Homo sapiens: one gene and its partners. The protein of the gene in region 4 purifies or fractionates together with the protein of the main gene of each other region. This does not show direct contact. Each region holds a gene or a part of one and is shown on either strand. Other genes may lie near its edges. The genes, in order: ANGEL1, TSPAN10, LRRC8D, SLC44A1, TRIM13, CLPTM1 and ERICH5.

Region 1 (3,500 bases), on a different chromosome or scaffold from region 4:
GTGTCTCCTCTTTTTTTTGGAAGTGTTTGTGAAGGATTTGTATGAATTCCTCTTGAAATGTTTGCTGGAATTCACCAGTGAAGCCATTGAGCCTGGTGTTTTCTTTGTGGGATGTTTTAAAATTACAGATTCAATCTCTTTATTTATTATAGGCCTATTCAGATTTTCAGTTTTTTCTTGAGTTATTGTGCATAGTTTGTGTCTTTCTAGGAATTTTTCAATTTTATATAAGTTATCCAATTTGTTGGTATCCAGTTATTTATAGCATTCACTTATAGTTATTTTTTATTTCTAAATGGTTGGTGGTGATGGCCCCTCTTTCATTTCTGATTTTAGTAATTTGAGTATTCTGTTTTCTTGGTCTAGCTAAGGGCTTGTCACTGTTGTTGCTGATCCTTATTATCCTGTTAATGTTGGTAGGATCTGTACTAATGTCCCTTCTTTCTTTCCTGATATTGGTAATTTGTATCTTCCTTTTTTAACATTCGTGTGTATGATATGTATGTGTGTGTGTGCTTATAGATGTATACATATATGTAATATGTATGTATATATACATGTATGCATACATGCATAGACACACACAATGGATGGTATGTAATAGAAAGTCTTTGAAGGAATATACCAGGAATTTGGTAACATTGGTGGCTTCTGGAGAGGGGAATTGAGTGGCAGAGGAGGACAAGTGAGAGGGAAACTTCACTGATACTTTTTGCTACATTTTGATTTTGTACCATGTGACTATATGACTTATTTTTTTTTAATCAAATTAAAGAAAAACAAAGGTGAGGAGCCACAGAAGACAATGTCTGTGTTAGATGCCCTACATCTGCTTTCTGAGGTTCTTGACTTTGGTTTATGGTCATCTTCTCCTCCTCACTGTTTCTCCCTTTCTCCTTCTGGATCCTTCTGAAGCAATCCAGTCAAGGATCTGAGAGGGATTTTAGGGTGAAAGGTTCTGATCCTGCTTCACTGTCTGTGGATGAGAAAATGTTTTTCTCTCTGGTCCTCTGCAGAGCGACCTGCGGGTTGGGCTGAGTCTGTCCTTGAGGAAGATGCATCGGAGCTTGAGCCTGCCTTCTCCAGGTAACCTTCTCCAGTTCTCTTCTGTTTTCAATCCAGCCCTTGCCTAGGTGTAAGAGAGAGATTCCCATTGGTTGTCCTGAGGTTGACTTGGGGGAGCACTTTTTGATAAGCTCTTTTTCCCCTAATATCTGCTAAACTTATAGAGGGTTATGTAGGTATGCAGAAGCCAGAGGTGACCCACCCATGTTACTGCAGGTGAAAAGGCTATGTACTCTTTCCTCAGAGGGTAAAGCCTCACAGAAGAGGCCTGGGCCCCAGACAGGGGTACATTGGGGATACTTTACCAGGTAACAAGCAGATAGTGGGGGATTAGGAGTGTTAGGGAGTCTCAGTACAAATGTGTGTTTCTAGGCTAATTTTAGCTAAGACTGCCAGCCCCTTCTTAGCATGGGGAGGAATTGGCTGAGATTGAGTCATCTGAGATCATCCTTTTAAAAAATCTTCATAAAACCCATAGAAAAAGTGATCTAGGGAAAATTTAGTAATTTTTGTTAACTAATGTTTCCCCCTTCATCCCTGTAGGACTGTAGGTACCATCCAGCACTGCCTCCACCTGACGTCAGTATATACCCACTTCCTGCCCCAGCGTGGCCGCCCAGAGGTCACTACAATGCCATTGGGTCTTGGAATGACAGTAGATTACATCTTCTTCTCAGCTGAGTCCTGTGAGAATGGGAACAGAACTGGTAAGCCTGATGGATCCTGGGTTCCTCCACCCCCAGGTCCCTGGGAACAGCTAATGGTAGGTCAGGCATTTGGTAGCATGTCTTCAGCTGCTGGGATTTAACCAGCAAAGGAGCAGATTTCATACCTCCCTTGCACTGGTCATCCTTATCATTCTCCCCATAGGCCACTTGCCTGCCTTGTCTCTTTTTACCCTTGCAGCATTAAAGAGAGGAGGGTAGGACAGTCACTCCCAATCCCCATTTTAGAGGTAAAAATAGAGATCTAGGAATTGGTTGAGTTTGTTTAATGACAGCCACTGAATGAGGGACTTGGTTAGGTAAGAGACCTTATTTTCTGTCTCCTCTCCCCATACCAGTGGGCACAGTATAGCAATCTCCCAGCCCCATGCCTGTATTGTGTAAAGAATGTTTCTTTTTGGCCAGGCATGTGTATTACTGTTATGGCCAGGCACGTGTATTACTGGTTCACACCGGTAATCCCAGCACTCTGGGAGGCCGAGGTGGGTAGATCACTTGAGGTTAGGAGTGAGACCAGCCTGGCCACATGATGAAACCCCGTCTCTACTAAAAATACAAAAAATTAGCCGGGTGTGGTGACGGTGTCTGTAATCCCAGCTGCTTGGGAGGCTGAGGCAGGAGAATCGCTTGAACTCGGGAGGCAGAGGTTACAGTGAGCCGAGATCGTGCCACTGCACTCCAGCCTGGGCAACAAGCGTAAAACTCCGTCTTAAAAAAAAAAAAAAAAAAAATTAGCCAGGCATGGTGGCGGGTACCTATAATCCCAGCTACTCAGGAGGCTGAGGCAGGAGAATCGCTTGAACCCGGGGGTCAGAGGTTGCAGTGAGCTGAGATTGCGCCACTGCACTCCAGCCTGGACAACGAAGTAAGACTCCATCTAAAAAAAAAAAAAAAAAAATCAGATTTTATATAGAAAAGCTGGATCTCTAGCTTCTCTTGGAAAATCAAAAGATCTTATAATGGTGGGCTCTCCAGCTTGCCCCAGTTCCCCGGAACTCACCTGTCTTTATTCGTTGATGATATTATGGAGTATCTCTGAGAAAATGGGGCCTCCTCAGCCAGATGCTGCAAGAGGAGGTGAGGGGCAGTGGGCAGCCAAGGGGATGCAGCCTGCAGAAGGCGTTCCCAAAGGACTCTGCCACTGCCTGCCCATGCAGTGTGGCTGCGGCTGCTTTTACCCATTGGCTTCTGCTTTGTGCCCCAGATCACAGGCTGTATCGAGATGGAACTCTCAAGCTCCTGGGTCGTCTCTCCCTTCTCTCTGAAGAGATACTCTGGGCTGCCAATGGCTTACCCAACCCCTTCTGCTCTTCAGACCACCTCTGCCTGCTAGCCAGCTTCGGGATGGAAGTCACCGCCCCATGACAGGGCTCCCAGGGGAAGAGAGCTTCTCTTCCAGAAGAGCTCACTGGATCAGAGACTGTGGAAAAATCCCATGCATCTAGAAACTTAGATCCAAGAAACTTACATCCCCTCCCTTCCCCCTCCTCGTTCCCTTTTTCCCACGGTTAGACTTTCTCCAGGCCTGGCTGCGTTCTCTGCCTGTGGTCCTTGCCCCACCCCAGCCTCTTCCTAATCCTGTGCCACACACTCAGTGGCCCTGGGAGAGGCAGAAGGGGGGCTCCCCCTTCCTTCCATGTATCCAGCGCTCCCCCTTGATTTTTAATTACCAGGGTTATGGGAGTTCTTGATTTCATTGGTTATTTGCTT
Region 2 (3,500 bases), on a different chromosome or scaffold from region 4:
TGGCTTGAGCCCAGGAGTTTGAGGCTGCAGTGAGCTGAGAGCCTGATGCTGTGATCAGCTTCTTCCTGGTGAAACTGGATTGGAATGGGATCCTTGCCCAGCACACAGCCATGGCTGCTTTTTATTATTTATTTAGTTTTTGAGATGGAGTCTCGCTCTGTCACCCAGGCTGGAGTGCAGTCACGCGATCTCTGCTCATGCAACCTCTGCCTCCTGCTCATGCAACCTCCACCTCCTGGGTTCAAGCGATTCTCCTGCCTCAGCCTCCCAAGTAGCTGGGATTACAGGTGTGTGCCACCACGCCCGGCTAATTTTTTTTTTTTTTTTTTTTTTAGTAGAGATGAGGTTTCTCCACGTTGCTCAGGCTGGTCTCGAATTCCCGACCTCAGGTGATCCACCCACCTCAGCCTCCCAAAGTGCTGGGATGACAGGCGTGAGCCACAACGTCCAGCCCGGCCATAGCTTCTTATTCTCCTTTTTAAAAAAACTCTTCCCGGCAGAACTGGGCACCTGCGGGGCTGCCTCTTCCCCCACAGAGAGAGACCAGCAAGCCTTTCCTGCCAGTGGGCCAGGGGGTCCCCTCTGAAGGCCCTGCAGCCTCCAGGCGGTCTTCCTGGGCTCTTGGGCACCCTCCTCCCTGTCCTGGGAGCCTGTTGGGCAGGGCACTGTCCTGTCCTCGGCAGCAGGGTCCAGTGCCGTGTCCACACTCAGTGCGGGCCGTTGGTGGGGCCGAAGAATGGGTGCTGGGATGTGAGGACTGGTTTCAGAGGGGAAAGAAAAGGGCAGCCATGTGGGCCAGCCCCTGTGGCTGGTGAGGAAGCCCCTCTACACAAGTTCCATGCTGCAGGCACACACAGACTGATCCACGCAGATGCTGTTTCAAACTCTGGGGACGCAGCCCCGCCTGTGTGCTGCGGGAAAGCCAGGGCGACCCTGACCCGGGGAGGCCGCAGACACCCACGCATAGGACCAGGAGGGAGTGGGTGTGTTCACTGAGCACCGCCCTGCTTGGTCTTCACCACAGCCTTTCAGAGTCTGCTCATCACCCTGTTCTAAAGGTGGGGTCCCACCAGAGCTGGGACCCTCACTGCCCCTTCTGCTGCTCAGCCGAGCGGGACGGCCCTGAGGGCCCCCTGCCCCTGGCTGTCCGCATCTCTGAGCTCCAGTGCTGCCCTCCGCCATCCGGCATCCTCCCATCCCTCGAAGGCTCTGCCACCATGCTCTTCCCTGACCCCTCACCAGTTGTCACAGAGTCTGGGTGAATGCGGTCTCACCCTGTTCCTCTTCCCTCTGCAGGAAACTGCAGGCCAGAAGCCCCTCTCTGTGCACAGGCCACCCACCTCAGGCTGCCTAGGTCCAGTGCCCAGGGAGGACCAGGCGGAGGCCTGGGGCTGCAGCTGCTGTCCCCCGGAGACCAAGCACCAGGCCTTGAGTGGCACCCCCAAGAAAGGACCAGCCCCTTCCCTCTCCCCAGGGAGCAGCTGCGTCAAGTATCTGATCTTCCTCTCCAACTTCCCCTTCTCCCTGCTGGGGCTGCTGGCCCTGGCCATCGGGCTCTGGGGCCTGGCTGTCAAGGGGTCTCTGGGAAGTGATCTGGGGGGGCCCCTGCCCGCAGACCCCATGCTGGGGCTGGCACTGGGAGGGCTGGTGGTCAGCGCAGTGAGCCTGGCTGGCTACCTGGGCGCCCTCTGTGAGAACACCTGCCTGTTACGTGGCTTCTCTGGGGGCATCCTTGCCTTCCTGGTGCTTGAGGCCGTGGCGGGGGCCCTGGTGGTGGCCCTCTGGGGCCCGCTGCAAGACAGCCTGGAGCACACCCTGCGTGTGGCCATCGCCCACTACCAGGACGACCCAGACCTGCGCTTCCTCCTCGACCAAGTCCAGCTCGGGCTGAGGTGCTGCGGAGCTGCCTCCTACCAGGACTGGCAGCAGAACCTGTGAGTCTTGGAGTGGGCGAGGGACAGGGCCACCACAGGGTCGCAGAGGCCACACACCCTTGTGCGTGTACACACAGTCACTCACACGTACATACTCATTCGTGCATGCCCACATGCATGCACACGTATACCCACATGTACACGCATATCCACACTGGCACGTCTCGTGCTCACAGGTTTCACGTGTGTGGACACACACCTACACACTCCTCTACACTGACATGAACATGTTCTTGTGCACACACAAAACAGCCTCACACTCAGGCACACACTCACACTCAAACATGTTCATACACACACGTGTCATGCACACAAGGTATAGGGGTGCTTGCCTCTCCTTGTTCTATGGGCTCAGGGCCCCAATCAGCCCTGCGGCCCCCAGAACGTGCAGGGTGACTCTGTTCCCCCCGCCAGGGCCAGGAGGACTACCCAGGAGCTTAGTTGAGAAGCTGAGCCCACAAACTTAGAAAGTCATTTTTCTGCTGGGCACGATGGCTCACACCTGTAATCCCAGCACTTTGGGAGGCTGAGGTAGGCGGATCACCTGAAGTCAGGAGTTCAAGACCAGCCTGGCCAACATGGTGAAACCCCATCTCTACTAAAAATACAAAAATTAGCCAGGCATGGTGGCAGGCACCTGTAATCCCAGCTACTCAGGAGGCCGAGGCAGGAGAATGACTTGAATCCAGGAGGTGGAGGTTGCAGCCAAAACAGCACCACTGCATTCCAGCATGGGCAACAGAGCGAGCATCCATCTCAAAGAAAAAAGGCCGGGCGCGGTAGCTCACGCCTGTAATCCTAGCACTTTGGGAGGCCGAGGCGGGCGGATCACGAGGTCAGGAGATCAAGACCATTCTGGCTAACACGATGAAACCCCGTCTCTACTAAAAAATAGAAAAAATTAGCTGGGTGTGGTGGCGGGCGCCTATAGTCCCAGCTACTCAGGAGGCTGAGGCAGGAGAATGGCGTGAACCCAGGAGGCGGAGCTTGCAGTGAGCCGAGATCGCCCCACTGCACTCCAGCCTGGGCGATGGAGGGAGACTCTGTCTCAAAAAAAAAAAAGAAAAGAAAATGACTTTTAGGTGAATTCAGGACATTATTCTGGAATCTGACTCCACAGTTTCCCTCCACCGTGAGTGTCATTAAACGCCGTGCATTTAGGATCCAGTGCAGGATTTTCTTATATTCTGCTCAAGGGTAGCTGTCTTTTTGTTGGTTTGTTTGTTTGTTTTTTTGAGACGGAGTCTCCCTCTCGCCCAGGCTGGAGTGCAGTGGCTCGATCTCGGCTCACTGTAAAGAGGGTAGCTGTCTGTTTTATCAGCTATCCCCAGTGCATGCACACCCCAAGCAGCACCTACTCTCCATGCCACACCCAGGACAGACGATATGCACTCTGTCTCCCAAGCCTTCTTGGTGCATGTATCCAGGAGCAGCTGAACACAAGAGATGAAGTCATAGGCAACCCTGAAAACTGGCCATTGGGACCCAGCAGTGGCTAACAGGCGGGTCCTTCCAGACTCTGCAAAGCACCACATAGGTTGGTTTTTGGCCACGTGTGACTGGGTT
Region 3 (3,500 bases), on a different chromosome or scaffold from region 4:
CAGCAGACATTGAGGAATGTCGGAGACATTTATGGTTATCATAGCGAGGTGGCAGGTGCTGCTGTCATCTAGTGGCTAGAGGACAGGGATGATACATAAGCATCCTACTGTGCACAGGACATCAACCCCCTTCCTCCTAAACAAAGAATGATCCTGTCCAAAATGGCGATAGTGCCTGCCCTTAGATCTCAGAATAGGTCTTGAAGGGAGGTGGTTCTTGACATGGGAGGAGTAATAACATTGAGCTTAGGAAGCTGATGTAGGAGACTTGTGCTCAGGTCTGATGTGATTAGGGTCTGGGCAAATCCTTATTGAAAGAAAGGGGCAGTTTGGAGGGAGATCATAGCAGATGAGCACAGTATGATAGTGGAGTAAGTTGGGAATCATTGAAATCAGAATTGGCATTTTAGAGGGGCCCTATCCAATTTATTTATTTTAGTAAATTCTTACCCTTTCTAGGTAACTTTTGTTTAACCCCAGGAACCGTGAACTTCTCCTGAAGACAGGTTATTACACCTTTGGACTGTTTGTTGTATTTTTACTTGAGCTGAAGACTGTCTCCTTGAATTTTTTTTTCCAATGATTTTCTTCTTTTGGAGCTGCCTACTCTCTTTGAATGCACCAAGACAATATGATGTCCCCTTACCCCCAGTTGACTTTGCTAATGCAAACTAGTCCCAATTCTTTTCACAGTCTTTTATTGGGATGTGGTTTCTCGATGTCTTCTCAGTTTATCGGCATCTCACATGGAGAATCTGGAATTGAATATGTAATTGAGATGTGATCTGGCCAACAGAGAGTACAGTAAGACAGCTGTTTGCTGAGACCTAAGCATAAATGTCTACTTACTGCACCTTAAGCTTACAACTGCCTATGATTTTCTTAGGCAGTGCCGAGCACAAACTTCTTTATTAGATAATCATGTTTTGGATAGTCAAAACCCCCAGATATTTGCTCTGTGAGCTGCTGCATCCTGTATTTCTTGGGCAGATTTTTTTGGAGAAGTTTTTTTTGTTGTTGTTGTTCCTTCTCAATGTTATCCTATTTATTTTGATCCAGTCTTCTAGCCTTTGACATTTTTGAATTTATGTCTTCTAATTATATCAGAGAGGAATGGAGGATGACTTTGTTGAAAACTGTAGTCAGTACTATGTAAAACTCAGTAGTTTGGGGGCTCTATTGGTCCTATATGAGAGCTGAGATCACTGAGTGATGGAGGTGAGTTCTAGGGCTAATTAGCCCTTATTTTGGGGGCTTCTGAGAAATTTAAATGCCAGGCCACATGGCATTTAGCTCTTGAAATGTTTGCACCTGGGGTACCATTTTGAAATTGTTCAAGTCTGTTGCAAGCTTCTGAAATCTGAATTCCTTCCTCTGGGTCTTTGTAGTTCTGTTTATGTATCTGGAAGAGAGTTTCTAATGTTTTGTGCAAATCTGAAGCTTGCAGGGTTAGAGTTGCTTTTGAAATTTGTGAGAAGATAGGATAACTGGCAAAAATCAACTATGGACTTGTTTCCCACTCAGGCTAAGCTTTGTTTTCTTTTTTGCTAATATGCCTCAAATATTTAGTGACAGCCTTATATTTAGAGAAGGAGAGAGGATTGAGGTTTAGAAGCAAACCTTTTTCTCAGAGCTTGGCTTTAACTTGCCGTTGATGTAAGTTCATACTTAACTTGAATTTTACAGTCTTCACTACAAAGACATTAGGAAATTACCATTCCCAGATGTCTTCTGAAGCTGGCAGGTAAGAAATCCCAGGTACCTTAGTGCCAAGTTCTCCAAATACTCTAGATCTATCCAGTGAACTAGATTTAATAAATTACTTGATTTGGGTGGTAGCTGTCTCACAGTGTTGAAGGAGAGCTAGAGGAAAATTTCAAATCTCATGGCCAAATGTGTGTCACCTCTTTGTGATGAGTGTCCATTGTGCCCCAATCCTTTGTTAGTGTGTTGGCTGTCCAGATGGTGCAGTCTACTTGGTTTCCCTTCTTTACCAGTCCACGTGGGCAACCTCTTTATATCCTCTGGAGATGAAGGATATTCCAATGAAAAGAAGGGATGCCTTTTGAATATTTGAAATTTCTTGAGGGGAAAAGTGTTGCTGTCCTTTTATATTGTCAAAGGCTGTGTCGAAGTTGGAGTCTTAGAATTAAGGATGCAGTTGTGTCACTTTGAATAGAAAGAATATTATAGCTGGAAGGGATCAACCCTTAAATTTTATTTTATTTTATTTTATTTTATTTTATTTTTTTAGACGGAGTCTCGCTCTGTCGCCCAGGCTGGAGTGCAGTGGCGCGATCTCAGCTCACTGCAAGCTCCGCCTCCCGGGTTCACGCCATTCTCCTGCCTCAGCCTCCCGAGTAGCTGGGACTACAGGCACCCGCCACTGCACACAGCTAATTTTTTGTATTTTTAGTAGAGATGGGGTTTCACCATGGTCTCGATCTCCTGACCTCATGATCCGCCCGCCTCGGCCTCCCAAAGTGCTGGGATTACAGGCATGAGCCACCGCGCCTGGCTACCCTTAAATTTTATAGTTGAGCGTATCCAGGCACAGGGAGGTGATGTGCTTAGCGTAAGTTTACACATGTAGTGACAGAGTAGGCATTAGAATCTATCTGCCTTAAAGACCACAATAAAGGCTAAGGATCAGGATTTCTTCTCTGCTTAGAGGTGTGTAAACAGTGGGGTCCCTCGGGTCTTATTTACATAATTGATCTAAAAGAAGGAACACACAGTGGAATTTCTAGGTTTGCAGATGACAGCTTTTCTGGATTATGAAATGTCTAACCACTGGGTATTTGCTCCAGGGAAACCACACTAGGATGTATTAGTCATCAGACGATTTGCAGGTGAGTTTCTTGTGGGCAAATAGGTGGTTGGGTATTAAGGGGAAATTACAGAATTTTCATAGGATGGTGTTTTGTTGGATAAACTCAGGGAAGGGCTCTGAAAATACCTTCATGTTGTTGTCCTGACTTGCTGTTGCAGAAAAACAAAAACCATGAAATGCTAGGCTTCATCAAAAAGATTTTGGGGCTGGGCATGGTGGCTCAGGCCTGTAATCCCAGCAGTTTGGGAGGCTGAGGTGGGCAGATCACCTAAGGTCAGGAATTCGAGACCAGCCTGGCCAACCTGGTGAAACCCCGTCTCTACTAAAAATAAAAAAATTAGCCAGATGTGGTGGTGGTGCCTGTAATCCCAGCTACTCGGGAAGTTGAGGCAGGAGAATCACTTGAACTCAAGAGGCGGAGTTTGCAGTGAGCTGAGATCGCGCCATTGCACTCCAGCCTGGGCAACAGAGACTGTCTCAAAAAAAAAAAAAAAAAAGATTTTGGGGAAAAAAATACAAAATATAGTCTTAATTGAGTTTTCACTGTGTTTTTTCCCCCAAATTCGTGGGCACCTAACCTTCAGAAAGACACTAGAGCTGGAATGACCATTGTAATGATACCTACCTAGAATGTTTGGACATTGCTGCTAGAATGTAAGCTTCATGA
Region 4 (3,196 bases):
CTTAAAATATATTTGTCAACATGTCCAGTTCCAACAACAGTTGAAGATGATGATAAATTAGCAAACTCAAGGGTAGTCCATAGTTGGCAAAAAATAAATTTGGTAGAAAGTTGGAGGAGCAGATGCTGAAGGTAGAAATGCAAAAGATGTTTTTTCTTCCTGCATAAATCACGGAGGTGTGTTCTGTTTTAGTGTTTTCCAGTCACCCACTAGAGCAGCTTCAGATTCCTCTGCCAATAGAACTCCACCCCCAGTCCCTTACCTACTCTATCTTCTTTAGGGAAGCATGTGGATTTCTTCACATCTGCACCTTACTATTAGGTAAGGGTGCTGCATCTACATGGAAGGCTCCCTGGGCCCTTGAAAAAGCAGGCAGAAACTCATCAAGGGGTTTGAAGTTCTTGTGAAATTTGATCCCAGTGGCTCATGACTTATAGTCAGGCATCAAACCATTTCCTACTTTTTCAGGCTGAAGAAAGTGGAAATATAACTGGCTGGTGAAGAAAGGAGAAAAGTCAGCCCCCTACCCCACCCCACACTCCTAGAAAAGTTTGGGGGTTTTTTTTGTTTGTTTTTGGTGTTTTTTTGAGACGGAGTCTCGCTCTATCGCCAGCTTAGAGTGCAGTGGCTCAATCTTAGCTCACTGCAACCTCCACCTCCCAGGTTCAAGTGATTCTCCTGCATCAGCCTCCTGAGTAGCTGGGACCACAGGCATGTGCCACCACACCCAGCTAATTTTTGTATTTTTAGTAGAGACGGGGTTTCACCACGTTGGCCAGGCCAATCTCGAACTCCTGACCTCAGGTGATCCACCCGCCTCAGCCTCCCAAAGTGCTGGGATTACAGGCATGAGCCACCGCGCCCGGCCTAGAAGAGTTTTAATGAACCTTCCACAGTAGTAAATGCAGAGACCACTGGTGGAAATTCCCATGTTGGATAGAAAAGGGCGTAAGTCCAGTCTAAGTATCTAAATGTGATATGCCCTTTTGTCACAGAAGTGTAAGACTTAAAGGGAATATTCTGACCTTCGTGTATGAATCTGATCCACCCATCCTGTCAGCTAGGATTATAATTTGAACTGTCGTTTCAGGAGCATGTGTTAAATCATATGAGTAAAAAAAAAGTAGACATTGAAAAGAAGACTTGGGAATAATTGGGCAGATAGAATGGGTTCCATGGATCATTCTAGTTGCCACTAGAAAATGTGAGCTCCTTCTTCATTTACCATGTTGATAATCCGGTGGTGACTTTTTTTTTTTTTTTGTAAATTGTATTAGATACCCCACAGGAATGTGACAATAATAGGATAGCTTTGGGGGCTGGTGATTTGAAACAGGGACTATTAAGTAGATTTTCCCCCATCCTCTAGGTTCCTGTAGTCTGTGCTCAGAACTTGGTTTTTGGCCCCTATTGTTTTTGCCTATTTTGATTTTCAGAGATGATCACATGGGGACAGTTAACTTTTCTTCTGCTGTGTTGCCTTAATGCTACTAGATTGTGTTGTGTTGTTGGAGTTTTCTGACTTCTTCCCTATAAAAAGATACTGAGAGCTCCATAATGAAAGAAGTTGTTATACTTTCTCAGAATATTCTGGACCACTGAATGCACTTCTAATAGAGCTTTAATCTAAAGAAGTTAGTTCAGTGGTTATTAACTGATTTTATTACAGGAGAAAAAAACTTTAACAAAAAGGCAGGGAGAAAAGTGTGAAGGGCATCAAGCAAAATGACAGGGGCTTCAAAAAACAACCAAAGACAAAACCCTATCTTCTGAAGACCAAAGGTCCAACTTTACTTACTGGCTGGCACAGCCTTTCTGAACTCCTTGAGTTTAGAATAGAGCTCCTAGAATAATAAGGCGGCCAAATTTAAAGATCAGTCAATACAGTAGGGACCTGCTATTGATCTCTCAGGCACTGAGTCTTCACATCCAGTGTCAAGCCCAGCCCAGCATATGGGGTGATATGAGCAGAAAACACACATCGGTGTGTCTTGATTTCTCGCAGCTGTGTAATGTGGCATGAGAAGTATGTTTTGGTGCCACATATTTCTCAATCTGATGCCTTTTTGTCTTTTTTTTTTTTTGCCATTTGCATCCTATTTCATAGTGCCAAAATGAATTTTTGTATCTTGTCTTGTCTTTGTCCATTATAAACTGGAGGATCACAGTTAAGCCTTCCATGAATTCATAGTTTGGAATCATTTACCTTACCATTATTTTGGATTTTTTTCTTATTACAGTGTCACTACACTGTATTCATGTGGGGGAACAAACATGTAGGTGCTTGAACATGCCCCACAGACACAGTTGTAGCCCTAGTATTTGTGACGGTCATTATTGACACAGTGCAGACTTTGCAGATGGAGCATTATGCTCTCAGAGGACTTTAAAAATATGTATATTAAGCAATTAACTTTCTGGAGTTGGAGTTATCAAATCTTGCTGGGAAATTAACTTCCAAGAGCTCTGAATTGGATGGAATTCCATCTGGCTTCAGAGAACAATCAGCCTATATGAAACGGAGCTTTGAAATGTTTTTCTTGTGCAGAAATACGAACTAGAAAGAAAAGTGCTGATCTAATGCTAAGTTTTCTCTGTGTACTGACTCAGTTGCCAGAATTATAATGAAAACTGTATTTTAGTCTAACAAATGTATAGAATTTTTTATGTAATAAATAAAATTTTATAGGAAAGAATGTTATTGTCTACTGTGTTGTAACACTTCCCCATGCCCAGGGTGGTGACTGATAAAATCATGGGCAACATCTTCGTTTCAAATTAGGTCAGTATGCTGCAAGGGTGCCCCAGAATTTCCCAGCTGTTCCTTTCTGTCTCTCGCAGCATGTTCTGGGGGCTTCGGAATAGCAACTATAAATGTACCTAAACCAATTTCTGAAGTACAAAGTTCATCCACTGCCAGGCCAGGCTTCATAGCTGGAGTCTGAGTTGCCGCGTGAATGCTAAGATTGCAACTGAACTCAATCATCAGGCAGAGTAGAAAAGCCTCCACTGGGCCGGGCGTGGTGGCTCACGCCTGTAATCCCAGCACTTTGGGAGGCCGAGGCGGACAGATCACAAGATGAGGAGATCGAGACCATCCTGGCTAACACGGTGAAACCCCGTCTCTACTAAAAAAAATACAAAAAAATAAGCCGGGCGTGGTGGCGGGCGCCTGTAGTCCCAGCTACTCGGGAGA
Region 5 (2,463 bases), on a different chromosome or scaffold from region 4:
TGATAAGTTTACATTTTTAGGAGAGTGGAGCTTTCAATCTGCCCTTTTCTCCTTTGTTTTTGTAGTTTTCACCAAAGATGATCAACTAGAAATGTTAAGTGGCTATGCAAGCAAAAGCATAGATAGGTTAAAAAAAAGGATCAGCTGGCTGGGCAGGGTGGCTCATGTCTATAATCTCAGCATTCTAGGACAGTGATGTGGGAGGATTATTTGAGGCTAGGAGTTCCAGTTCGAAACCAGCTTCGTAAACATAGCAAGACCCAGTCTCTACCAAAAAAAAAAAAAAAAAAAAAAAAAAAAAAAATATATATATATATATACACACACACACACACATATGTACACATACATATATATACATATATATGTATATATAGAACACATGGCAAGAGCAGGAAATGGGAAGACTACCTTTTTTCTGGCAGCTATGTGTTGTTTTGTTCGAAAGATGGCAAGTGTACAACCAAACCAATCCACTTGCTTACAGAAAGAATGTTTAGTGTAGTTAAGACTAATTTGACAACAGATAAAACAGTCTGTCAGCTATTACAAAGTAATCAGCTGAACACTAATGCTGTTCTGTCTGCTCACAAGAGATAAAGATACCCTCTCATGGAATAAACACCTTGCTTAGAATTCATATAACAAAGAAGTAACCTTATAACTGCTCTCTAGTCTGCCTTATTTGTGTCATAGAGTAAGATATTCCTTGAAAGCCCATTAAGTGGAATAGACTTTCTGAAAATAAGAGTTCTTTACCTCAGTCCTCCTCTAATTTGGTTGAGAGGAGGTAATGAAAATGGGGACAGGATAAAAGGTGGCAACTAAATTTAAAGCACAGAAGAAATGATTTCCTTCTAGCTATGAGAATAGTCAAATTGAGCTTGCCAGGCTGTCTCATTCCTAACATGTAATTCATGATTTAGCCACTAAATTTCTAAGGAGATCATAAGAAATTAAGAAAAACGTTTAAGTCTAGCCTCTGCGTGGTAGACAGGTATGGGGAGGGAGAATGCTTTTCCCCTCCCAGTAATAAAAAAAAAAAAAAAAAAAATATATATATATATATATATATATATATATATATATATATATATATATATATATATAGTTTTACTAGGTTTTCATGGATAAGTTTTTAAATGTAAGACAGGAAAGGGATCTATTTGATGTCTATCTTCAGATATATTGGCAGTTTTCCTTAAGCTATTTAGTTCCTCATCTGTTGCTTTTTCATTTTGTATACTGCAAGTTCCCAGGCAACTCGAATTTGCAAACACAGCCATGGATACACTATTTACCTTACAGTAGTTTCCTGGGAATCTAAGTCTGGTTTTTGTTATTCTTCCCTCCCCTCCACTGCATAATCATGTATAACTAGCAACATTTATGGTTATAGGTTGATTTCCTAAGTGTGGCTGATGGTAGCCTCTAGTTTGAAGTGAGGGAAGAATGAGTAGTCAGGAACTGGTCACTTTGAATGTGGGAGGGAAGATATTCACGACAAGGTTTTCTACGATAAAGCAGTTTCCTGCTTCTCGTTTGGCACGCATGTTAGATGGCAGAGACCAAGAATTCAAGATGGTTGGTGGCCAGATTTTTGTAGACAGAGATGGTGATTTGTTTAGTTTCATCTTAGATTTTTTGAGAACTCACCAGCTTTTATTACCCACTGAATTTTCAGACTATCTTAGGCTTCAGAGAGAGGCTCTTTTCTATGAACTTCGTTCTCTAGTTGATCTCTTAAACCCATACCTGCTACAGCCAAGACCTGCTCTTGTGGAGGTACATTTCCTAAGCCGGAACACTCAAGCTTTTTTCAGGGTGTTTGGCTCTTGCAGCAAAACAATTGAGATGCTAACAGGGAGGATTACAGTGTTTACAGAACAACCTTCAGCGCCGACCTGGAATGGTAACTTTTTCCCTCCTCAGATGACCTTACTTCCACTGCCTCCACAAAGACCTTCTTACCATGACCTGGTTTTCCAGTGTGGTTCTGACAGCACTACTGATAACCAAACTGGAGTCAGGTATTTTGTACTTTGCAGTATTTCTCTTGTATACCAGTTTGTGATGTTTTCTCTAAAAACTTGAAGTTCCTCAGGCCTGTAACTTCTGGAAAAGATGATTATTCAAAATAATGTTTTGGGGTAACCAGTGGAGTTGGGTAGAATGACCAAATAATTATTTTCCAAACTGGGATACTTTTTAGAGTGAAAGGGGCTATTATTAGGTGGGACAAAAGGAATAAATGAAGACTGCCCAGAAAAAACTGAGACTATGGACATTCAAATCATGGGAGAAAATAATTTTGTAGATTATGTTCCATTGCTAATGAATTTGACTTAGAAAAGAATTGCCTTATTTTTAAGAGATTGTTTCAGTGGTTCACATAAAGGCTCGCTCACTGGTTTCTCTTGAGTTCCTTACACACTATATAAGTTGTTCTTTCAGTTTTATGAT
Region 6 (4,131 bases), on a different chromosome or scaffold from region 4:
CGTGTATCTTTGGGACTCCCTCTCTCACTTCCTTCAGGTCTTTGTTCAAGCGTCACCTCCTCAGAGAGGCCTTCTAGACTACCCTATTTAATTGCAACTCTTCTACCCACCCCTCACTTCCTATCCCCATCCCAGCTTTATTTCTGTCCATGGCACGCAGAGCCATCTGAACTGCTGTTTTTCTTATTTATCTTGTTCACTGTGTGTCCCTGTCTGTGCTTCCCCTATAAATTCAGCTCCAACTAGAACATAAGTGTAAGGGCCTTCAAGAGGGCAGCACCTATTTTATTCACAGCTGTATCTCCAGCATCAGCAAAGGCCTAGCATGGAGTAGACTCAATTCGCATTCGCTGAAGGAAGGAATGGCAAAGCTGTGGGTTCTGTGTCCGAGTTCCTGGCTACAGGAGCAGGCTAGCTAAAGCAGCAGACTGTGCAGAGGGTGTGCCTGCTGTGCACTAGGCCCTGGGCATGGGAGAAGGGTGGCAGTGGCTGTGGACACATCAGTGACTAAGACACAGTTCCTGCTCTCGGATCTGCACGTCCACGCACACACACAATCCCCAGCAACATCTGCTAAAGGGTCCAAGAAGTAGCTGAGACCACCAGGGCTAGGCAAGAGCAGGAGGAAGCTAGGTTTTGCGGCATGTCTTCACTGATTACCTGGATCCACCACGGCATCAGGGAATTCCACCTCAGCCCAGCCTCTGTTTCAAGATCCGCTCATTCCACAAACACTGAGCACCTCCTCTGTGCCTGGCGCTGAGCTGAGTGGTGCTAAGGAAGCAGTGGTGATCAAGGCAGTCCTGGCTCTGCCCTCCTGGGGTTCCCAGTCCCCAGACAGTGAAACCCAGTAGGGCAGGGCTGGGACAGCGGAGCCCAGACAGTCAAAGAGGGCTTTCTGCAGGAAGGGACATCTGAAATCTGTAGGACTAATACACATCAACTAGCTAAAGAGGGGAGAGACCTGTGCATAGACTATGAGGAAAGAGACTGAGAGGCAATAAAAGAGGTTTAGAAATAAAATAGGTTCAGAGCAGCGGATCCCCTTTAGCGCAGTTGTTCTCACGCAGGGATGGCTTTGCCCCCCTGCTCTTGGAACATTTGGCAATGTCTGGAGACATATATGGTTGTCACAACTGGGGAGGGGCGTGGATCCTACTGACATCTAGTGCGTAGAGGCCACGGATGCTGCTAAACATCCTAAAATGCACAGGGCAGCCCCCCAAACAAAGCATTATCCAATTCAAAATGTTGATAGTGCCGAGCTCGAGAAATCCTAGTCTAGTCTGAAGAAAAGTGTCGGATCGTGCAAGACTGTGATTTATTAAAGAATTTGTACTTTGTCCTAAAGGCAAAGGGGTAACTCTTGATTGTTTTTAAGCAGAGTTGGTACAAGAGAAGATCAGAGTGCCATCTGGAAGCTCAGGGCAATGAGAACAACCTGGGCCCTGGTCTCTCAAGCCACCATCAACCCAATAATCAACAGAAACCCAGAGGGGAAACGACCTCCTTTCAGCAAGACTGGGAAACCCTTGAAGACAGGAACTGAGCCTTCATTCCAGCACTAACTCAACAAACATTTCCTAAGCTGTCCCTGAAGCCAGGCCCTGGCTGAGAATGCTGAAAAGATTCAGAGCAGATACAGTGGGCTCTATCACACAAATTTCATCCATGTGTCCTACCCAAGTGATACCACTTGCTCTTTCTCTGGGCTCCCCCAGTCCCTGACACAGACTTTTGTCACCAACCTAATCATTCAGGATTACAACTGTTTACATGTCAGTCTCCTCTCTTCGTCCCCTGACAGCAGGGATATGGCTGGCCCTCCTGTCCAACCTCTGCATTTAACACGGGAGAGATAAAGGCCTAAAGAGGGAAAGGAACTTGCCCAAGGTCACACAGAGAGTCAGCTTCATTCTCCCCTCTCAACCCGCACTCCTTTCCCCTGAGCTGCCTCCCACATGTCAGTGACATCCCAGTGGGTGGGTCGACAGCACCTTCATGTCTCTCCATCTATTCCCCAAATGCCTGAACGGTAGCTGCCTGAAATGGTATGCTCTGCAGTGTGTTAAGACAGCAGTGGGGCAGAAGTCATCCGCACCAGGACTAATTAACCCATAGAACTATTTTACATTAAAACCACAACCATACCAGTCCCTGTGTCAGCAGTGTCTTGTAACTTCTACATAAAGTTACAAACCTAACCAGGATGACCTTCTAGAAGCGCCTTAGTCTCACTGTTCCTTGAATTCCCGTCTGTAAAATGGGTCTGTCGGCCGTGCCCTGCTAATACTGACTTCCCCACAGCTAGAAAACTCCCAATTAATCACTGCGCACACCTCAAACACTACAACGAGACCTGAACGCCAGACCACTCTAGGAACGGCCTCAGAGCATGGAATCGCGGAGTTGAGAACCCAGCGCGCCAAGGTACAAGCCTGCGCCCCTCCGAGCCACTGTCTCCCCGGATCGAGCAATGAGCCTGGTGGCCGCCCGGCTCGAGCGTGCAGGGGAACCGACCCGCAACAGGGCCCTGTTCCCGGCACCGTCCGGCCTCCCGGGCGGTCCGGCCCTGCCTGGGCCGGGTATTCAAGGTCCCTCTGGCCAAGGAGCCCCCAGTGCACGGGATTCCGTGACAAGAGGTAGGACACGCCCCGTGGGAGGCCCCCCGGCTGGGGAAGAACCCCCTCAGTCCCCTCTCGGCCTCCGTACCTGACCGGAGCTGCCTCCCCCGGCCGCCACCACGGCGCTGCGGGCCCCGTCCGCCTCCTGCGCCGCCGCCATCTTCCCGCTCCGGGTCCCCGCCCCCGCCGCCAGCCCCGCCCCGTCCCCGACTTCGCAGCGCAATCGCGCGAGATTTCACGCTTTCCTAGCCCCGCCGGGCCACCCTATCCGGCAAGAGTGCCGCAGCCACGCCTCTCAGGAAGGCCACTTCCGGCTATGGAAGGACCAACCTGGCCACCGTACTCGTCTTTCTCCCAGCCCGTTTGTTTCCACCTAATAAAAACACTGTATGCTCCGAACTCCAGGACTTTCTCGGCCAGCATGTGCCTCCCGCAAGTTCTGTCCCTTCCGTCCCTTCACATTAACCCGCCTTTTCGGTTATATGAGCCTTTCGGGACATCCTGTCCGCTTCTCCCTGCCGATTCTTCGCGTCCTTTTCGTTCCATGTTTCTTGAGCTTTACCGGCCACTGTACGGCTTCGAACCACGCCCCTCTTTCGTCAGAGGAACCTTTCTGGCCACCGTATTCTGATTCGAAGAACTAGCCTTTTGCCCAGCACCCTTGTCTTCTGACCCCTCTTCCTAAGACAACTCTTTCGTTCAAGTCTCCTGAGCTCATATCCTTTCTGTGTTTTTAGAGTTCCAATTCCAGGGGTCTTACGGCCAACAAACCTCCGATGAGACCCTATGATACACCCCCAAGCCTTCGGACTGCCCTGCCTAGCACGCATGCGCGTTCCCTCAGTGGTCCAAACCTCGCATCCGTGGGCTAGGCTTCACGGGCTCTGAGAATTCCACAATTTTTCATTAGCTGTGTGTCTTCGTACAGCTCTAAACCCGGCCATCTGCTGAGAGACCCTTAGTTTGGAGAGGGTGTTACGGAGGCCCAGAGAGGACAAGACTCTCAGAGGCTGTTAACTGTTCACCCGTGAAATTGGGTGGATGTCTGGCCAGGGTTCTAACCCTTGTGGTGCTACTGACTGGATAAGATATCCTGGACAAGTGACGTCTCTCTCTCTCTTTTTTTTTCTTTTTTAGACGGAGCCTCACTCTCCCCCAGGCTGGAGTGCAATGGCGCGATCTCGGCTCACTGCAACCTCGGCTCACTGCATCCTCGGCCTCCCGAGTAGCTGGGATTACAGGAGCACGCCACCACTCCTGGCTAATTTTTTTTTTTTTTTTGAGACGGAGTCTCGCTCTGTCACCCAGGCTGGAGTGCAGTGGCGCGATCTCGGCTCACTGCAACCTCTGCCTCCCGGATTCAAGCAATTCTCCTGCGTCAGCCTCCCATTTTTTTTTTTTTTTTGTAAGTAGAGACGGAGTTTCACCGTGTTGGCCAGGCTGGTGACAAGTGACATCTATGTTTGAGCCTCAGTTTCTCCCCTTTTATAAACCAGGGATATAATCG
Region 7 (2,771 bases), on a different chromosome or scaffold from region 4:
GAGCCCCTTGAGGACAGAGACTATCTCTTCCTCAGTCTGCATCTCAGCACCTAGCATATGTTTAGGCATGCCAAAAAATGCTGAGTTAATAAATGAAAGAATTGGCCAGACATGGTGGCTCATGCCTGTAATCCCGGCACTTTGGGAGGCCGAGGCGGGTGGATCATGAGGTCAGGAGCTGGAGACCAGCCTGGCCAATGTGGTGAAACCCCGTCTCTACTAAAAATACAAAAACTAGCCGGGCATGGTGGTGTGCGCCTGTAGTCCCAGCTACTCAGGAGGCTGAGGCGGGAGAATCGCTTGAACGCAGAAGGTGGAGGTTGCAGTGAGCCGAGATCACTTCACTGCACTCCAGCCTGGGCAACAGAGCAAGACTCCATCTCAAAAAATAAATAAATTAATTAAATAAAATAAATAAATGAAAGAATTAAACAAAAACAGATGGATGATTATAATGAATGCTTCACTTAAGTATACTGAACTGTGAAGCTAAAATTTACCAAAATGTAAATCATACCCCAGAAGAAAATATTTTTTTAAATTATAACACCAATAAAGAACACTGTAAACATCATTTGTTTTATGCTGGTAAAATACAGTTAAAATTTTAAAACACCATATGCTAAGACATAGTACATTTTCTCTGGTCTTCTCATACAGATTTTAAAACTGCAGAAGAACAAGAGCAGACTGACAGTCATTTTCTTTTTCCTTTTTTCTTTCTTTTTTTTTTTTTTTCTGGAGAACAAGGTCTCACTATGTTGCCCAGGCAGGTCATGAACTGCTGGGCTCAAGCTATCCTCCCACCTCTGCCTCCTGAAGTGCTGGGATTACAGGTGTGAGCCACTGCACCCTGTCCTGACAGTCATTTTCTAAGATAAGCTTCACAAAGATGAAAATAACATTCTAAGATCCATTATGTATATATCATTTCATTGGAAGGTGAATTCCTCCAGTAATCATCTATTCACCTTTACTTTGGATCCTGATTTCATACATGGGGCCTGATGAAGTGTCAACTTGGAAAAATTCAGAAAGTTTCACATGTTGCCTTCAATGTTAGACACTATTTAAACACTAGGTTAAAATTTTGGACAGAGATGATGTTTCGGAAAAGTTTTGCTGACAAACTGAGCATTAATAGAATGCCTCTTTCCCAGGCACAGAAGCCTTTTTGGTTTGGTCAAACGAACTTCAACCACCTGAAAGTGACTTCAGGGACTGTGTGTCAGTCACCCCATCCCACTCCCCAGAGCTGGTCTCCTATGGAGCACATCTAAACATCCAGGTTTGCCAGCATAACTTTTACCTTCAATGCGTTGGTCCTCTTCATTAGTATGGATGTTCCTGATCATTTCCACATATGCTCCTGCCTCTACATTTCGTGCTGGATGCTCCATGCTTCCAACTATTCCTTCAGGTTGAATCTGCTCCATGTTTCCTGGACCTTCAGGAGTTTTATGGAATGGATCATTCATAACAGGCTTTTCCACAAGCTGACTTCTGTCCAATACTTCTGGTGTTACATTCTCTTTGGGAATTCTTTCTAGAAGCTGGGGCTGCTCCTCTTTTCCCAATGTTGCCTGAAGTTGCTGCTCTTCAGCTGTTTCCACAAACTGACTTCCTTCCAATATTTCTGGAGATTCATTCTCTTTGGAAATTGTTTCTAGAAGCGGGGCCTGCTCATCCTTTCCCACTGTGCCCTGAGGTTGTAGCTCTCCAGCTATTTGCAGAGTCAGAACGTTCTCAGTTGTTCCTAGAGGCTTCATCTCTGCAGCAGTTTGTGGATTCTCAGTGACCTCCACTGCTCTGAGAGAGTCCTTCTCTACTGCTGCCTGCAAAGGCTGACCCTTGGCTTCTGGTCCTAAAGGCTGAGCTTCAGCATTTCCTTTTAGAGACTCGGCCTCTGTCCCTGCTCCTGCATCTTTCTTCTTTCCTTCTGCTGCTGGGGCATCCTCTTTGCCACCTGGTTGAGGCGGCCCAGATTCCTCCAGTCCCTCTCCAGGCTGAGTCTTTTCTGTGGACCCTGATTGGTCTGTGGCATCCCTTCCAGGGGCTACGTCCTTGGCCAGGGGCTGTTCTTGGAGGGGTTTAACACCATTAGCTGTAGGCTCTGCTGAAACCTTGAGCTTTTGTAAGGGAGGACGGCTTTCCCTTTGTACATTGCCATCAACAGTAGATTCTCTTCCCAGTGCATGTGGCTTTGGTTGGGCAAAGCAGGACTCACTTTCTTCTGCAGTTGAAAAATGCTCATTTGAAGTTACTTTGGTTATTCATTTGAAAAAGAAAAAGAAAAGAGAAAACACAAATTATTGTTTAGTTTTATCTTGAAAAGTGAATTGACATCACAAAGTAGATTTAACAGTTCAAGACAGTTCCAAATATATCTGAGTACAGAAAGGCCATACCATGACCCTAACACTCTCCCAGTCAAATCCCTTTATTGTCTTCAGCTCAAACATTTAATCTTAAGCGCTGAAGTCCTCCAAAACCACAGTTTTCTCCTGTTTGCTCCTTGTGCATCTTTTCATGGCTCCTGTCCCAGATTCTAACTGAGCTTACTCTGTTTCTCTCTTCTTTTCCTTGTCTCACACTTTCTCCTCTTGAGACTTAGAAGGTTTCCTTTTTAAAAAATTTTTTTTCCATTTTTGTTTTGGCGGGGAGGGCAATAGAAGATTCCCAAACTTAGAAGGTTTCATGATGCGAGGTCCTTGGGCTGCTAGAGAGGTCTTACTTTCCTTCTAACACAGGAAAGCCCCCAGCAAATGGAA

Evidence for each region.
Region 1: the proteins of SLC44A1 (region 4) and ANGEL1 purify together in Homo sapiens (affinity purification with mass spectrometry; one large-scale study listed by BioGRID and IntAct). This does not show direct contact.
Region 2: the proteins of SLC44A1 (region 4) and TSPAN10 purify together in Homo sapiens (affinity purification with mass spectrometry; one large-scale study listed by BioGRID and IntAct). This does not show direct contact.
Region 3: the proteins of SLC44A1 (region 4) and LRRC8D purify together in Homo sapiens (affinity purification with mass spectrometry; one large-scale study listed by BioGRID and IntAct). This does not show direct contact.
Region 5: the proteins of SLC44A1 (region 4) and TRIM13 purify together in Homo sapiens (affinity purification with mass spectrometry; one large-scale study listed by BioGRID and IntAct). This does not show direct contact.
Region 6: the proteins of SLC44A1 (region 4) and CLPTM1 purify together in Homo sapiens (affinity purification with mass spectrometry; one large-scale study listed by BioGRID and IntAct). This does not show direct contact.
Region 7: the proteins of SLC44A1 (region 4) and ERICH5 purify together in Homo sapiens (affinity purification with mass spectrometry; one large-scale study listed by BioGRID and IntAct). This does not show direct contact.

The regions. Positions count from the first base shown.
Region 1 is NC_000014.9:76,788,883-76,792,382, reverse strand, and holds part of ANGEL1 (protein angel homolog 1), read left to right. Parts: intron 1-1,016; coding exon 1,017-1,086; intron 1,087-1,608; coding exon 1,609-1,772; intron 1,773-2,994; coding exon 2,995-3,155; 3' UTR 3,156-3,500.
Region 2 is NC_000017.11:81,643,696-81,647,195, forward strand, and holds part of TSPAN10 (tetraspanin-10), read left to right. Parts: intron 1-1,296; coding exon 1,297-1,934; intron 1,935-3,500. UniProt on the Homo sapiens protein: Part of TspanC8 subgroup, composed of 6 members that interact with the transmembrane metalloprotease ADAM10.
Region 3 is NC_000001.11:89,824,032-89,827,531, forward strand, and holds part of LRRC8D (volume-regulated anion channel subunit LRRC8D), read left to right. Parts: intron 1-3,500. UniProt on the Homo sapiens protein: Non-essential component of the volume-regulated anion channel (VRAC, also named VSOAC channel), an anion channel required to maintain a constant cell volume in response to extracellular or intracellular osmotic changes.
Region 4 is NC_000009.12:105,394,651-105,397,846, forward strand, and holds the end of SLC44A1 (choline transporter-like protein 1), read left to right. Parts: 3' UTR 1-2,696; downstream 2,697-3,196.
Region 5 is NC_000013.11:50,014,042-50,016,504, forward strand, and holds part of TRIM13 (E3 ubiquitin-protein ligase TRIM13), read left to right. Parts: 3' UTR 1-1,452; coding exon of another isoform or gene 1,453-2,030; 3' UTR 2,031-2,463. Other genes in the region: KCNRG (potassium channel regulatory protein), read left to right, coding at 1,453-2,030. UniProt on the Homo sapiens protein: Endoplasmic reticulum (ER) membrane anchored E3 ligase involved in the retrotranslocation and turnover of membrane and secretory proteins from the ER through a set of processes named ER-associated degradation (ERAD).
Region 6 is NC_000019.10:44,954,049-44,958,179, reverse strand, and holds the start of CLPTM1 (putative lipid scramblase CLPTM1), read right to left. Parts: upstream 2,801-4,131; 5' UTR 2,785-2,800; coding exon 2,713-2,784; intron 1-2,712. UniProt on the Homo sapiens protein: Involved in GABAergic but not glutamatergic transmission. Binds and traps GABAA receptors in the endoplasmic reticulum (ER).
Region 7 is NC_000008.11:98,088,568-98,091,338, reverse strand, and holds part of ERICH5 (glutamate-rich protein 5), read right to left. Parts: intron 2,264-2,771; coding exon 1,310-2,263; intron 1-1,309.